Linked DNA regions of Homo sapiens: region 2 is linked to region 1. A link means that fine-mapping ties the variant in region 1 to the expression of a gene that starts in the linked region. Tissue or cell type: ovary. Region 1 holds a variant in brackets; the other region holds the start of a gene. All regions are shown on one strand. Distances are between the middles of the regions.

What was found. PIP is the estimated chance that this variant, and not a neighbour inherited with it, causes the effect.
Region 2: it holds the start of RIC3, and the variant in region 1 is fine-mapped to the expression of RIC3 in ovary (GTEx, PIP above 0.99).

The regions. Positions count from the first base shown.
Region 1 is chr11:8,305,853-8,313,956 of GRCh38, forward strand. No RefSeq gene overlaps it. Among named protein-coding and RNA genes, the nearest start is that of LMO1, 46 kb to the left of the region's middle. The variant GCA/G (reference allele first, on the strand shown) is at 4,790.
Region 2 is chr11:8,164,768-8,172,871 of GRCh38, forward strand. RIC3 (RIC3 acetylcholine receptor chaperone) reads right to left here and starts at 4,258. Exons shown (of 6, transcript NM_001206671.4): 1 at 4,099-4,258. The coding sequence starts at 4,222. RIC3-DT (RIC3 divergent transcript) reads left to right here and starts at 4,303. Exons shown (of 5, transcript NR_187234.1): 1 at 4,303-4,422; 2 at 5,118-5,221.

The DNA.
Region 1 (8,104 bases):
AAAAAGGTTGTAACACCCAAAGCTGTAGAGAGAAGAAAAAAGGTAATAAAAAAACCCAATAAATCCAATTGAATGTAGGAAAGGGGAAGAAACAGAAAAATACATGGTAAAAATTTTAAAAGGTGGTATTAAAAACTCCAATTTTATCAGTAATCACAATAAATTTAAATGACTTAGACCCATTTGTTCGGAGATATTCCCAGATAAGATTTTTAAAATCCAGTTATAAGTTGTTTATAACTGACCTAATAGTTAAAACATAATTATACAAAAAGCTTAAAAGTAGAAGGATAGGGAAAGATCATAAATACTAATAATCAAAGGAAATGAGATATAGTGACATTAATAGCAACCAGAAGAGATGTCATGGTTTTAAAAAACTTGAGATTTAAAGAGGGTGACTGTTCACTGACAAGAAGAACAATTGAATAGAAATCTATAGTGAAGCTGAACCTGATTGCTCATAATACTATAACCTCCTTAAAGATGACAGGATTATCAGGGAAAATTGACAGAGGATATTAAGCAAAATACATAGCAAAATTGACAGACTTGTGGGAGAAACTGACAAACCTACATTTGTAATGAGAAATTTTAACACTCCTTTTCCAGAAATTGATGAAACAGATAAAATTATTAACATTTGTTTGATGTCCATATATAAAATCTTGTTTCCAATAATTAAAGAGTACACTTCGTTTTCAAGTGGAACATTTAAAAACTTGCCAGGCGCGGTGGCTCATGCCTGTAATCCCAGCACTTTGGGAGGCTGAGGTGGGCGGATCACCTGAGGTCGGGAGTTTGAGACCAGCCTGGGCAACATGGAGAAGCCTGGTCTCTATTAAAAATACAAAATTAGTTGAGAATGGTGGTGCATGCCTCTAATCCCAGCTACTCCGGAGGCTGAGGCAGGAGAATCGCTTGAACCCAGGAGGTGGAGGTTGCAGTGAGCCGAGATGGCGCCACTGCACTCCAGCCTGGGCAACAAGAGCAAGACTCTGTCTAAAAAAAAAAAAAAAAATTAGATGGCCATGGTGGCAGGGGCCTGTAATCCTAGTTACTTGGGAGGCTGAGGCAGGAGAATCTCTCGAACACGGGAGACAGAGGTTGCAATGAGCCAAGATCGTGCCACTGTACTCCAGTCTGGGCGACAGAGTGAGACTCCATCTCAAAATAAATAGATAAATAAATAAATAAAAACTGACTATATAATAGGACACAAAGGAAGCGTTAACAGATAATAAAAATTTGATATATTAGTGACAGATTCTATGACTTCAGTGCAATAAAGTTATAAAACAATTTAAAAAATTGGGTCCAAAGCACCTCACTTATTTTCTTTATTGTAGTGAACTATATAATATGTATAAAAGAATATGTTAATACACAGAATTTAAAGAAATATACCGTAAACATCTATGTAACTGTCACCCAGATTAAAAAACAGTACATTTTGGCCGGGCGCAGTGGCTCACGCCTGTAATCCCAGCACTTTGGGAGGCTGAGATGGGTGGGTCACGAGGTCAGGAGATCGAGACTATCCTGGCTAACACAGTGAAACCCCGTCTATACTAAAAATACAAAAAAAAAAAAAAATTAGCCAGGTGTGGTGGCGGGTGCCTGTAGTCCCAGCTACTCGGGAGGCTGAGGCAGGAGAATGGCGTGAACCCAGGAGGTGGAGCTTGCAGTGAGCCGAGATCATGCCACCGCACCTCCAGCCTGGGTGACAGAGCGAGGCACTGTCTCAACAACAACAACAACAAAACTCAGTACATTTCCAGGATCTCAGAAACCTTATGTATACCCCTTTCCAGCTGTATTCTCTTCCTGTTCCCTAGGAAGAGGTATCCACCACTCTGACTCTTAGGGCAGAGGTCCCCAACCCCTAGGCCATGGTCCAGTACCAGTCTGTGGTCTGTTAGGAACCAGGCCGCACGGCAGGAGGTGAGCGGTGGGCCAGTGAGCATTACTGCCAGTGAGCTCTGCCTCCTGTCAGATCAGCGCGGCATTAGAGTCTCACGGGATCTCGAACCCTATTGTGGACTGTGCATGTGAGGGATCTAGGTTGCAAACTTCTATGAGAATCTAATCATCCCTCGCCCTATCTTTAGGGTACTCATTTTTGTGCTTTGTTCTTACTGTTTTACCACTTGTGTATGTGTTCCTAAACAGTGTTGATGAGTTTTGACTGTTTTTCATCTTTATGTTAATGGAATCGTATTTTCTATCCTCTGCCTGGTGTCTGGTCATGTGCTGGGTACAGAGAATATAGAGTTGAATTAGACAGGAGTCCTCCCATCAAAATGATCATATTTGGTTGCAGAAATGGTAATTGCCACAGTAGGAATTAAGCTGTGGAGTAGGGGTATCACATCACAATCATGTTGTTGAAAAAGAGACTTCTTAAAGGAGTTGAGAGTTGAAATGAATTTTAAAATGATTTGACTTATTTTCCAATAAGACAAGGGAGATGAGAATTGCCATCAGTGTGAACATCAACTGTAGATCAATTCAGCCTTGTCTTAGTCAAGATTTCAAACTAGCTTAGACCAAAAAAAAAAAAAGTTAAAAAAGATTTACATAAGTGAACAGTCCATGTGATATGACTTCAGGCAAGACTGGATCCAGAAGCTTAATTAATTGCCAGCTTTAATCTCTTTTTTTTTTAATTTTAGAAAATAGAGATGGGGGTCTCAGCATGTTGCCCAGGCTGGTCTTGAACTCCTGGGCTCAAGCGATCCTCCTGCCTTGGCCACCCAAAGTGCTGGGATTACAGGTGTGAGCCACTGTGCCTGGCCTCTATCTCTTTCTATATCTATCAGATAGACTTTCTCTACACAGTGAATCAGATGGTCCTCAAAAACCTCAGACTCACTTCCTGTTGGCTTACCATTACAAGTAAGTGGTGCTCTCTTTTGTAAGTTCAAGCCAAAATTCCCAGAGAAGATTCTAACAGGTCCTGTTTGGGCCATGTCCACATTCCTACATTAATCATTGTCCCTAGAAGAATAAGGTGTTCTTGTTGTTCTAGATCACAGACTAGATCACCTGCCCATCTTATCCAAACCACATAGAACTGGCTCCTCACATGAGAGAAGGATTCTGTTCCCAGAAGTGAGAAAAAATCCTAAGAAGGCAAAGGCAACTGGAGTCCACCTGCAGTATGAGAGGTCACTTAGCATTTGAGAAACCACAGGCTCTTTGGTGTGACTGGGGAGTGGGCTGAAGGGGGACATGATCAGAAAAGAAGTAGGCTGGGGAGGTGACAGAGATGCAGAATGCGTGGACAACCAAGTTTTATTTTATGCTGAACATAACAGAGGCTTTACAGTGATTGGAGAGATTGAAGCAGAGGGTGACAAATTCAAATGCTCATTTTAGGAGGCTCCCTCTGGGGCCTGCAGGAGAGAGGGCTGGAGTGCTAAGACTGTTACAATAATCCTGGTGAGGAGGCTGAAATGAGATAGCAGGAAGGGAAGCCTTGTGGGGCAGGGATCAGGGCATGATCAGGTAGGAAACTAAGAAAGAAGTCGACACCATAGATGGGGGTAATGAAGGACGGGATGATGAAGGGAGAAGAGTCAAGCGACAGTCACGTTTCACATCTGAGTTTCAGGTGAGGATGTGCATCACCAAGACGAGGAGCCTGAGTCTGATGGGCCTATTCTGTGGTGGCTGTGGCTTTGCTCTCTCCCCAGCTTCTAGCCTCGTGTTAGAAACGCTTGAGGTTCTTGGTAAACCCTTATGGGTAGACTAACCGGGAATTGAATTGAAATGCAGATTCTAAGTGTGGCTTATGCTTCAAGCTGCAGGTCTCCTTGAGGACCCATTGCCAAGGCCTCGACAGCCCCATTGAAGAGGGCTGGGACTGAGCCTGTGTGTGTGTGTCTGTCTATGTGTCTGTTCCTATCTCTTTGTTTGAATGGGATGATTTTTCGCATACACCCCCTGACCTCCCTATCCTTGACAGCCAGGTTCCCAAGCCCAGGCATCCTACTGGCCAGGACCAGATAGGCTGTTCCTCCCAATACCTACTCTGGCATGGGGGTGTATCCCAAGACATTCTCCTCCTCTAGTTCCTCCCTTCCCACCCCCGCCAAACCTTCCAGAGGAAATCCTGGAAAGACTAGAGTGACAGAATGCATATCCCTACTCTCGCTAGAGACTAGGCTTCAGAGGGACCTGGCCATAGACAGGTGCTGCACCCTGCTGTGTGTCAGGTGCTCTGCAATGCCTTCTCTCCACTCACACTCACAACACTCTACGAGGCTAATAGTAGCACTACCCCCAATTGACAGGTGAGGACCTGAAGCCCAGAGAGGCAAACTGCATTGCCTGAAGCCCCTAATTGGTAATTATGGGATCTAAGTGCAAGTCTAATCAGAAGGTTGTGGGCTTCAGCCTCCCTGGGACTGTTGTCAGGAGGCAGGCAGCTGGAAGTGGTAGGGTCCCAGGCTCTTTAGAGAAGAAGCTGGGCTCCAGAAGGGGTAGACCAGAAGCCCAGCTTTCCTGGACCCACACCAGCCCCTCCCTGTTGGGTCTGGGTTTCTGGGGGCCCACGCAGCTGATGGTGATAGGCCAGAGAGGGTTGGTGGAGATGGGGGGAAGGGCTGGAGGTGTGGGTGGCTGGGGGTGGGTTAATGCTGCTGCCTTATGAAGGACATTTTTCAACTGAGCCGGTAACTGGAGGCCCTGTGAGTGTGTTCTGTCTCAGCAACTCCACAATCAGAGGATATGAACTGGCTGTGAGAAAGACATCAGGGGCTGGCTATTCCCAAACTCTTAGAAG[GCA/G]CAGAGCTAGATTTAATAAAAGGAGAAAATGGAACATTCTCATTAGCACCAGATTTTCCATTTAATTTGGACTTTTACAAAATAAGTAGCCTAATTACTGCCATGATTTGAGCTTCTCAATAGGTTTTTCCTCTAAGAAGCTGCAGACGCCACACAAGCCCCATTCTCCAGGGCTCGCCCTTGTGCCACAGACCCTCACCGCCCCTGCTTCTCTGGAAGCAGAAAGGCTTCTGAGGCCTGAGCGGGGAGGCAGGGCAAGGCACGGGAGGAGCGCAGGTGTGCTGGCTCAGCTGACCTCTCAGGGCCCTCCCTGCCCCTCCTGGGCCCCCAGCTCTCAGCAGCCAGTGGGGAAGATGCTATTCCGGAGCCTGCACGCCTCAGCACTGGCCTAGCCTGTGTCTGAGCCCTGGCCCGAGTCTTGCCTGAGTCTCAGCACAGGGCCTAGGAGGTTGCTGAACTAAGGTGAGGTGCCAGTACCTTCACCCCAGGGCTCTGTTCTTGGCCTATAGAAATGACTGTAGCCCTGCAGTGTCAGCACACAAACCATTTACACCGACCTCCCAGCACTAGAGAGGCTGAAGAGCAGGACTGACGCAGCCCCAGCCTGGGGCTCCAGCTCCCTTCTGGACCCTCAAGGGCACTTGCTGTCCCCATTAGGATGAAACCTGGGTGCCTCAGGCTGGAGTGACCTCCTTCATCTCTTTTCATACCTCCCCCATATCCCCCACATCCCCCTCCCTATTCTCCACCTCGGCCTTTGGCTTTTTCCTCTTCCTTCTGCGCTTGAAGAGAATCCGGGATTAAAGAAACGGAGCAAGAAATTGCCAAGAACTAGCCTCGCAGACAATCAGATAGAGGGATGGAGGGCAGGGGCCCTTCCCCCAAGAGGAGCCTGGGCCGTCCAGCCTGATGGGGCCTGGGAGACACGGGGTGTGCTGGCGGGCAGGGGCCATGTCCCGGGTGTGCACAGTGCTGGAAACATCCTCCTCAGCCATGACCTAAACCCAAGTCCTCTTTTGTCCCAGAGAATCAGTCCCAGCAAAGGTCTCACTGCTGGGCCCTTGTCCTAGGTACACTCTTCTACCCCATCCGTCCCCTGCCAAGGAAAGCAAACCCCTCTCTGGCCCCTCTCCAAACCAAGCCCTGCTGGCCCAACACCCCCAAGGGCTCCAGGCCCTGCCGCAGCCTCAGTCCCCTAGTTTTTCCCCCACTTCTCCAAGGAAGAAAGAGGTAACCCCAAGCCCCTTATGGAAGAGTAGTTGGAGGGATGTGAGGAGGCACCAAGAGAGATGTTATTACTAGGATTTTGGTAAAATAAGGTGAGATGTTTTCCTGGGGAGCTGTGAGGTCCCTCTGACCTGGAGGAGGCTCTTATTATATCGGCAATTTCTTGAGCCAGCCCCTTCGCAGGGGTCAAGGAGGACACAGAGGAGAGTCAGGTGCAGTCTCTGTTCTCATGGAGGGCTCAGGTTAGTGGGAAAGAAGTAGGTGATGTTCTCCCCATTTGTAGATGAAGACCAGAGCCTCAGAGATGTTGGGTGACATGCCCAAAGTCATCCAGCTGGGAAGTAGGAGAGCTGGGATTCATTCGTACTTCAGGGCAGGGCCTATGTCTATTTGCTTTTCATCACCGTAATGTCCAATATACATACAGCAGAGCGTGCGAGTCGATGGCTTGTTATGTATGTGCTCACCCATGGAATCACCACCCAGATCAAGGTCTCGGTCACTTCAAGCATTCCAGAAGGCTCCTTTATGCCCCCTCCAAGTCAGTACACCCCCACAGAGTTCCTCTCTATTCTGCAAATCCTGGCACGTTTTTTGTGGGGTGAGGGGTGACATTTCTTGGCCCAGGTGACTCCCTGCTGATGCTGTAACTCAGCTGTCCTGCAAAGATGGCATGGCCCAGCACCCAGCTGGCACACAACAAGAAACCCTGGCACTCTGGAGGGTGAAGAGAGGTGCTGTGGATAATGCCGGGACCACAAGGGTTAACAGGGGCTGTCCCAGCCTCACCTTCTCAACCCGGCCCTGGTGAGCCAAAGTTTTTGGTGGGAGGTGGCAGGGGCAGTGTGCTCATCTGTGGTAGCACAGACCTGGTCCTCCAGCCTCTTCTAGTGACCTCCCAGTCTCAGGACTCACCCAGGAGAGTGGTGGTAAGGGAGCTAATGCTCTCTGGGGTCTAGAACAGGCTTCCTTTGCCCCTGGTTTCAGGCTGTGCTTTCCTTAAGAGAGGACTTCAGAGGCAGCTAGAGGAGCCTCCATGTCTGCCATCCATAGACAATGGAGACTTAGGAAGCAGCACCCCATACCCCTGTCCAGCCAACTGCCCCAAGAGGCCTTCCCAAGCCTATGGGCCCCAGACCCCTAGCACCACAGCCAAGACCCTCACCTGCTCCACCCCACCCCGCCCCATCTGCATCCACGGGCCAGTGGGGGACCATTCAGTGAGATCCTCCCTGTCCTACGGCCTTGGCCGTGACCCCAGCTTGGCCTCTTTGTCTCTCAGCCAGGCCAGCCAGTTCAGCGTTAAAGCTGCTGGAGCATCCAAGGAGACATAAAGAAAGTTTAGAGACTTTTAATTTGCCAGCACGGCTCTCCGCTGGCCAGCAGGTTGAGCGTTTGTGGAGAAGGGCAGCCGCAATAAAGGCTTATTGTTCCTCTCTGAACCACTGCTCGTGACTCCTTTCTTAAGTGAGACAAAGGGAACCCAAGGCCCACAGGTGTCCCCAGGCCCAGAAAGCGGGGCCCACAATTAGCTAAAGTCCCCCAGGGTCAGGCTCTGGGGGTGGGGGCCCAACTCAGCCCCTGTCTAGGCTGTACTCACAGGAGAGCACAAGCCTGGGACATTGTCGGCAGGGAAATACTCTCCAGTGGGGACCCCAGGGCACCAGGAGACAGGACTCCCACAGGGAGGGGGCCAGAGCCCCCTGCAGAAGCACCACACGGAAGAGCAGCTGCAGGGGAGCCGCGGGGATGGGCCTCGTGGTCAGGGTCCTCCCTGGGTGCAGTGGGGGTGTCCCGGGAAAGGCTTCCAACAGCCAGAGAGGCATCTCTGGAGGGAGAGAGTTCCCCACCACAGGGAGCATGTGAGCTGGGAGGGCACCCAGAGGGAAGGTGGGGCTCCAGCTGAGCAGGTCACTTCCAGTGCCCAAAAGGCCAGACTTAGGAAGCCCAATCAGACCCTCTTGGCTGGGCAGAGAAAAGGCAGAGCACAGGAATGTGGTGACCCCCACAGAGACACCCTGCCACTGAGGCAGCCACTGGGAGCCAGGTAGCCACACCCCTGGGGAGAGGTGGCACCATGTCCCAT
Region 2 (8,104 bases), 140 kb before region 1:
ACCCTGTCTCTCTCAAAAAAAAAAAAAAAAAAAAAAAAAAGACAAGTAATCTGACTTTTAAAGAGGGTTAAAAGGACCTGAATAGACATTTCTCCAAAACAAGATATACAAATAGACAAAGAGTGAATAAACACACAAAAAATGCTCAATGTCATTAGTCATCAGGGAAATGCAAATAAAATCACAATGAGATACCATTTCATTCCTACTAGGATGGCTATCATCAAGAAGACAGATAACAAACAAGTATTGACAAGAAACCAGAAGCCCTCTTACACTGCTGGTGGTCATGTAAAATGGTACAGCTGCTTTGGAAAATGGTCTGGCAGTTCCTCAAAAGGTTAAACATGTAATAACCATACAACCTAGAAATTCCACGCTTAGTTCCAGCCACACTGGAATGCTCACATTTTCCAAATGTATACACTCAAGAGAAATGAAAACATTAAGTCTACACAAAAATTTGTACACAGATATCAGTAGCAACATTATTCATAATAGCTAAAAGGCAAAAATTCAATGTCCATCAATTGATTAATGAATAAATGAAATGTGGTATATCCACACAATGAAATATTATTCAGCCATAAAAAAAGTACTGCTACATGCTACAACATGGATGAACCTTGAAAACATTATGCTAGTTAAAAGACGTCAGTCACAAAAGATCAGATATTATATGATTTCATTTATACCAAATGTCCAGAACAGGCAAATCTATAGAGACATAAAGTAGATGAGTGGTTGCCTAGGGCTGGAGGTGGGCTGGGGGATTTGTGGAGTAATAGCTAAAAAGTACAGGGTTTCTTTGGGGGCTGAAGAAATATTCTAAAATTGGTTGTAGTGATGGTTGTACAACTCTGAATATGCTGAAACCCAATAAATTGTACACTTTAAGTGGGTGAATTGTATGATATATAAATTAGATCTCAAGAAAGCTGTTATCAAAAAAAAAAAAGACTTCCCTCCTCTATGTTCTATGAAACCTGTTTTTTGGGGTTTTTTTTTTGTTTTGTTTTGTTTTTTTTTTTGGCAGAGTCTCACTGTGTTGCCCAGGCTGCAGTGCAGTTACACAATCACACCTCACTGTAGCCTTGACCTCCAAACTTCAAACGATCCTCCCACCTCAGCCTACAGAGTAGCTGGGGCTACAGGTGCACACCACCATGCCCAGCTAATTGAAAAAAAACAAACTTATTTTGTAGAGATGGGGGTCTTGTTATGTGGCCCAAGCTGGTCTCGAACTCCCAGGCTCAAGCAATCCTTCCACCACAGCCTTTCAAAATGCTGGGATTACAGGCATGAGCTGTCACACCTGGTTTATGAAACCCTTCTTAAGTCCCAATAACACTGACCATTGCATACATGTCTCCATTGTTCCCTGCGCAGACTTGAGTAACTGTGACTGACACTCTTGCATTTATCTGCTAACATGTCTGTTTTGCATTTATCTGTTGACATGTCTACTTTCCTTTACTAAACTGTGGCCGCCTCAAAGCATGGAGTTCGCTCATTTTTTCTTGGAATACATAGTGTCTATACACTATGTGCACAGTATGTGATATGGTACATCATAAATATTTGTTAAAAGACTATCTTAAAGGCTTTCATGTGGAAAGGGAACTGTGCTTGTTTCATGCACATCAATGGGCAAAAATGGAAGACATAACAACATGTATTTTTAAGAATTTTCAAATACTCAGGGTTATTCCTTTCTTCAAAGCAGGGATTTCTGGGTTCTGAGAATTCTCTGAATTGATACTGAAATTCTGAGTACAATAAGAGTATGTACCTTTTTCTAGAGAGAACATACAGTTTTAGGCTGAGTGCAGTTGCTCAAGCCTGTAATCCCAGCACTTTGGAAGGCTGAGGCAGAAGGATCACTTGAACCCACGAGTTCGACACCAGCCTGGACAATACAATGAGACCCCCATCTCAACCAAAAACAAAAAAAATTTTTTTTAATTAGCCAGGCATGGTGGCATGTGCCTGTAGTCCCAGTTACTTGGGAGGCTGAGGTGGGAGGATCAGTTGAGCCCTAGAAGTAGAGGCTGCAGTGAGCTGTGATCATGACTCTGCACTCCAGCCTGGGTGACAGAGTGAGACCCAGGGAAAGGGAAAGAGAAAGGGAAAGGGGGCCAGGAAGAGAGGAAAGGAGGGAGGGAGGGACAGAGGGAGGAAGGAGAGAGAAAGAAAGAAAATACATAGCTTTTATAAGATTCTCAATGGTGTATGTAACCCCAAAATGGTTAAGATTTTTTGCTGCAAGTTTCAGTTACTGGAATGTACCATTCAAGGTAAGTTTTTTCCTAGGTTATACTACTTCAGTAGCTTCTCCTTGTCAAAAACAGAATTTACAGTATTGGTAGCTTAATAATCTTAAAGTATTTATTGACTGCCCATTATATGCCAGGTACTGAAGAAACAGTGGTAAACAAGACAAAGTCCCTACCCTTGCAAACTTACATTCTAGAAGGTGAAGACAAAAAAACAAACAAGTAAACACTTAAGAATATTCCATATCATATAGTGATGCCTATCATGAAGAATATAAAACATGATAAAATAGAGAATGATGGGAGAAAAGAGTTATTTTAGTTAGTGTCATCAGGGGAAGTCTCTCTGAGGAGGTTTCATTTGAGCAGAAATTTGAATGATGAGAAGGGCACTGAGGGAAAAGCACAGCACTTCAGGAATAAAGAGAACTGAAGGTACAAAGATCCTAACATGAGAACACTGAATACCAACACTTGAGTTCTCAAGGGAACAACCCATGTCTAATCTCCACTCTACATTTTCTACAACGTTCAGAAGAGTGTCTCCCACTCACAGTCAATAGTACTTGTTCAAGATAATTCACCATAATGGAAAGTAAAAAAAAAAAAAAAAAAGTTTTCGAAGAATCTTCACTGTTCAGGATCATCATGAATTGACTCTTCTTCAAAGTAGACAATATCATTAGACAAAGCAGGTAAAAATCTTTGGGATTATTGCAATAAGACAGAAAGGAAAAAAAAAGAACAAATACGCAAAGATGTTTTAGAAGTCCGTCCCAAGTGGATAGTCTTACAAGCATAAAGATTATCAGGCAAATTCTGTAAACAGAATTATGTGTTCAACCTGCCCTCCACCCCTAAAGCTTGGTGCTTTGCATTTATAGTGTGTATGATGCTCAAGAGAATGGAACTACAGTCAATGTGCATAAAGCAGACGGAAGTGGATTACAGTTCAAAAGGAGCTGTCCAGCAATCAACAGTTTAAACATTACTGGAAGTGTTCAGACACCGTAAAATCATGTCTCAAAGATATTACAAGGATAATTTACAGGAGAAAGTTACCAGTAGAACTTCATGACCTATAGAAAACTGTTCTGGTTCCTTCTCCCAGCCTTCAGCACCGTGCCTTTACACTCATTCTGTAAAAGGCCCCAGTGCAGCTAAGAGGATGAATTTTTAAACACCACATACATCATGCCAACAACGAAGAATTAACAGATAAATACTGTTTCAATAAGGGGAACGTAATAATTTGTTCATAACCACCTCAGTAACTGAAACTGGGGTTATTAAAATCTTCAAGATATATTTTTAAAGGCACAAGAAGAGCCTGAAGCAGTGAGCGCCCAGCACCAAGTTGAAAAAACATAACGACTTAAGGTTTGCTGTACCAATTCCATTTGCCTTGATTTCGTACCAAGCGGCGCGTCAGAAAGTACACGGAAAACCTAAAGAGGGAAACCCAACTGGGAACCCTTGACTCAAAGCACGTGAACAAATGGTGACGAGATGAGTTAAGCCAGCGGGGTAAGAGAGAAGGGACTGCGCCTAAACGGGAGTACGCAAGGCCACCTAGAGGATGCACAGACCTGCATGCATACGTTCCTGACCCTTCCAGCAGCAGAACCATCTGGGCCGCCACCCGCTGATAACAACGGAACCGTGGGCATTGGCCCTTCAACGCCGTCTCGCCCGCCCTCTCCAGTCAGTTTGGTGGATATTTCGGTGAAGGCTGCAGACTCTCAGAGTCACCCCTCCCTCAAGCAGCGTTCTCCGTACTCTTCGGCGCCGGGAAGCTCAGAGGGAGCTGGCCTGCTCTTACCTTCAGGTGTCGGCGGCGGCTCCTGCCGCTTCCCGCGGGACAGGAAGGCCTTGGGCAGCAGCAGCGACAGAGCCAGGACAAGCCCAGAAGCCAGAGCGACTCTCTGCACTGTGGAGTACGCCATGACTGCTCACGGTGGTCGCAGGTGCAGACGCCAGCCGGAACCGGAACCGGAACCGGAGCACGGGCTGCCGCTCCCGACCGAACCGCGGGCGGCGCGGACGGCGTCGCGCGAGGGACAAGGTGCGCGAGGCGCACGCATCTTCACCTCCACTGTCGGGAGTTGACCTGCTCCTCCCGCGTGGTTACCCGTCGCTGTAAATGGTACCCTCGCCTTCCCGTTCATACTAACTAAAAACTCCTCCCTCACTCCCCATGTTCATCTTTTACTGAGTCCTGTGCATTCTACCGCCTACACATCCGGCGGTCGTGCCCGGATCTCTATCCCCACTTACCACCACTGCCCCCCACCCACCCGTAGATCACAACATCCAGTTTCTCCTCATCTCCATGATCTCGCTGTCTTCCAGCTTCCACTCATGCCCCTCGCATTCATTATCCGTCTGCAGCCACAGGTGATAATGCTAAAACACAAGACTAATTCTCTTTCTCTCCAGCTTAAACCTTTTAACTCTCCATTATCTTCAGAACAATAGTTAAACTCCTTTCTATAACCTCAACGCCCTGCATGATCTGGTCTTACCAATGCTCCTTCCAAACTGGATGATTTGCTATTTCTTTAGCATATTGCTTGTCTTCAGGGAAGCTTTGCTTGTCCTGTTCCCACTGCCTGGAAAATTCCTGACACCATCTCCAGTTGTCAAAAACTTCTCTGAAGAACAGCTTAAAAACACTGCTCTCTCGAAACGTTTTCAGTCAGCCTCTCCTTTCTCTACAATCCCACCGTTCTTTGTTACTCTCTTCATTCGTTCATTTAACATTATTTTAGTTTTTACTATGTATTAGACCCTCAACTTGGCACTACAGGGTCTGATGAATAAAATGGATTCCCTTTGTAGGACAGATAATTATCCAAACAAAAAAAATGCAGGAAATATTCTGGATCCCCGAGCAGTCTTCTCAACTGGTACGAGGAAAAGTCAAGAAAAGCCCCTTTGAGAAGGTGAAATTGAGTTAGCTGTTGAAAAATGAGTAACTTATAGGCAGACAGGTGGGAGGGGTTAGAAAGGTATTCCGGAAAAAGGAGGCCAAAAAAATAAAGGCAAATCTGGAAGCTTCCTGGTGTGTTCAGAAAGCTATTGGTAATTCATTTTGGCAGGGCCATAGAGTAGTGACAGGACACGAAGTGCACAAATATAAGCAGGAGCTACATTGTGAAAAGCTTAGGTAGAACTTCCAGTTAAACATGACAGATGTAACATATGCATTTATCTTTGCTTTCCTGGGACAGTGCCCAAAAAGGAAAATAAAGAAATAAAGTATATAAACTACAAGACTAAATGCAATGATAGAAAACATGACAGCAGATGAGAAATGTCAATTTTGTAAGACGCACACAACACTGTCCAATAGACACATAATACCAGCCACATATGTAATTTAAATTTTTCCAGTAGCCACATTTAAAAAGTAAAAATAAGTAAAATTTATTTTAATAATATTTTAAACCAAGATAGCAAAAATATTTCAAATTTTATCAGCACGATAGTGTGGCTCGTTGGCGCCCACAGTAGACAGTGCAGGTGTAGAGCATAAAAAGTTAAATGCCTGTGGACTGAAAGCCTGTAAGGAGTGAACTAATTTGCCCCTCAGAACCCATGCTCTTAAGAATTGGAGGTACTGGGTTCCTTTAAAGCCAAGGGTGCAGAGTGGGTCTGAATGAAGGATTGGCTGGAAATCTGATTAAAAAGCAGTTGAGACTGGGCACAGTGGCTCACACCTATAATCCCAGGGCTTTGGGAGGCCAAGGCTGGAGGATGGCTTGAGGCCAAGAGTTCAAGGCCAGCCTGGGCAACATAGGGAGAGCCCTAATCTCTACCAAAAAAATGTAAAAAATTAACCAGGCATGGTGGTGTGCACCTGTAGTCCCAACTACTCAGGAAGCTGAGGTGGGAAGATCACTTGAGCCCAAGAGTTTGAGGCTGCAGTGAGCTATGATTGTGTGAAACCACAATTAATTATGATATATAAGATGATAATAATGCCTGAATGAAGCCAGTAGGGGCACCCACTCCAGCCAGGGTGACAGAGTGAGACCCTGTCTCTAAAAAAAAATTGTTTGATTTTTTTAAAGCAATGGATATCTTCTGAATCTCTTTCCTTGATTCATGCAGCCAGATGGGTGCCACTGCTGGCTTCACTCGGGCATTATTATCATTGATGTTATTAACATCACTAAAAGTTAGAGTACTAATTATGTTTTAGGCATCTTACATATCATAATTATTCCTCCCAATAACTTCAAGAGGTAAGCAATATTATTATATACCCATTTCACAGGTAAGAAAATGGAGCCCCAGAAAACATAATTTACTTGCCAACAATTACACAGTATAAACTGGATGCTATGATTTGAACACAGGCATGCTTACTCAAGAATTTGCCCTCTTAGCTACCAGGTTTACTGTCTGGGGAGGTTTAGTCAGAAAACCTCTGGACTCCTGGACTATAGATGCAGCTTAGGGAGGAGGTGACTAATGGGATGTGGTCTCTAAGAAATACAGAGGGGTCTGGAATGACCACACTCCCCCCCGCCCTCCGCCACCAAATTCTAGCTTGGGTAAATGGTAGACATTAATTCTATATAACATGATTTTAAGAATAGAAGAATCAGGTTTGTGAGAAAGATGAAGAGTTCAGATTTTGACTAGCTGAATTTGAAGTTCCATGAAATATCCAAGTAGAAATATCCAGTTGGATATATGGGCCTGGAGCTCAGAAGAGATGTTTGGGCTAGAAACAATAGGAAATCATCAGCCCATCTATAGTAAATGAAGTCTAGGAGAAGATGGCATTAGTGAGAGTGCTCATGTGAAGTTGTAAGAAGCCACAATGGAAACCTAGGTCACAACATTATGTTGAAGTTCCCATGTATGAGGACAGAAATGAGGTGGGAAATAGTGATCCAAGTGTTAAAATCTTTAATGAATGTGGAGTTACTACAAGGTTGGAAGGTGACAGGAACAGAAGAAGTAATGGGCAGCCAGATGACATGCTCTTCTAAGGAGCTGTGTTTTTTTTTAATTGTTTAAAAATTTTTATTTATTTATTTATTTATTTATTTATTTTTGAGATGGAGTCTTGCTCTGTTGCCCAGGCTGGAGTGCAGTGGTGCAATCTCGGCTCACTACAAGCTCCGCCTCCTGGCTTCACGCCATTCTCCTGCCTCAGCCTCCCAAGTAGCAGGGACCACAGGTGCCCGCCACCACGCCCGGCTAATTTTTTTGTTGTATTTTTAGTAGAGATGGGGTTTCACTATGTTAGCCAGGATGGTCTCGATCCTTGTTATGCACCCACCTCAGCCTCCCAAAGTGCTGGGATTACAGGCATGAGCCACAGCGCCTGGCCAGGAGCTATGGTTTTTAAAGGAAGAAGAGGAAGAAGCAATTTGGAAGCAGCAAGGGGAAACAAGTTGGGCATCTATTCTATTCCCAGGCTTTAAGCTGTGGGAAGAAAAATAGCTCTTACTTTGGGAGATCTGCAAGGGAAACAGAACCCAGAGGCAACAGCCTAGTTTTCATTAGAGGAAGACAGGCCGGGCGCAGTGGCTTATGTCTGTAATCCCAGCACTTTGGGAGGCCAAGGGGGGCGGATCACGAGGTCAAGAAATCAAGACCATCCTGGCCAACATGCTGAAACCCACCTCTACTAAAAATACAAAAATTAGCTGGGCGTGATGACATGCGCCTGTAATCCCAGCTACTTGGGAGGCTGAGGCAGGAGAATCGCTTGAACCCAGGAGGCAGAGGTCGCAGTGAGCTGAGATCGCGCCACTGCACTCCAGCCTGGTGACAGAGTGAGACTCCATCTCAAAATAAAAAAAAAA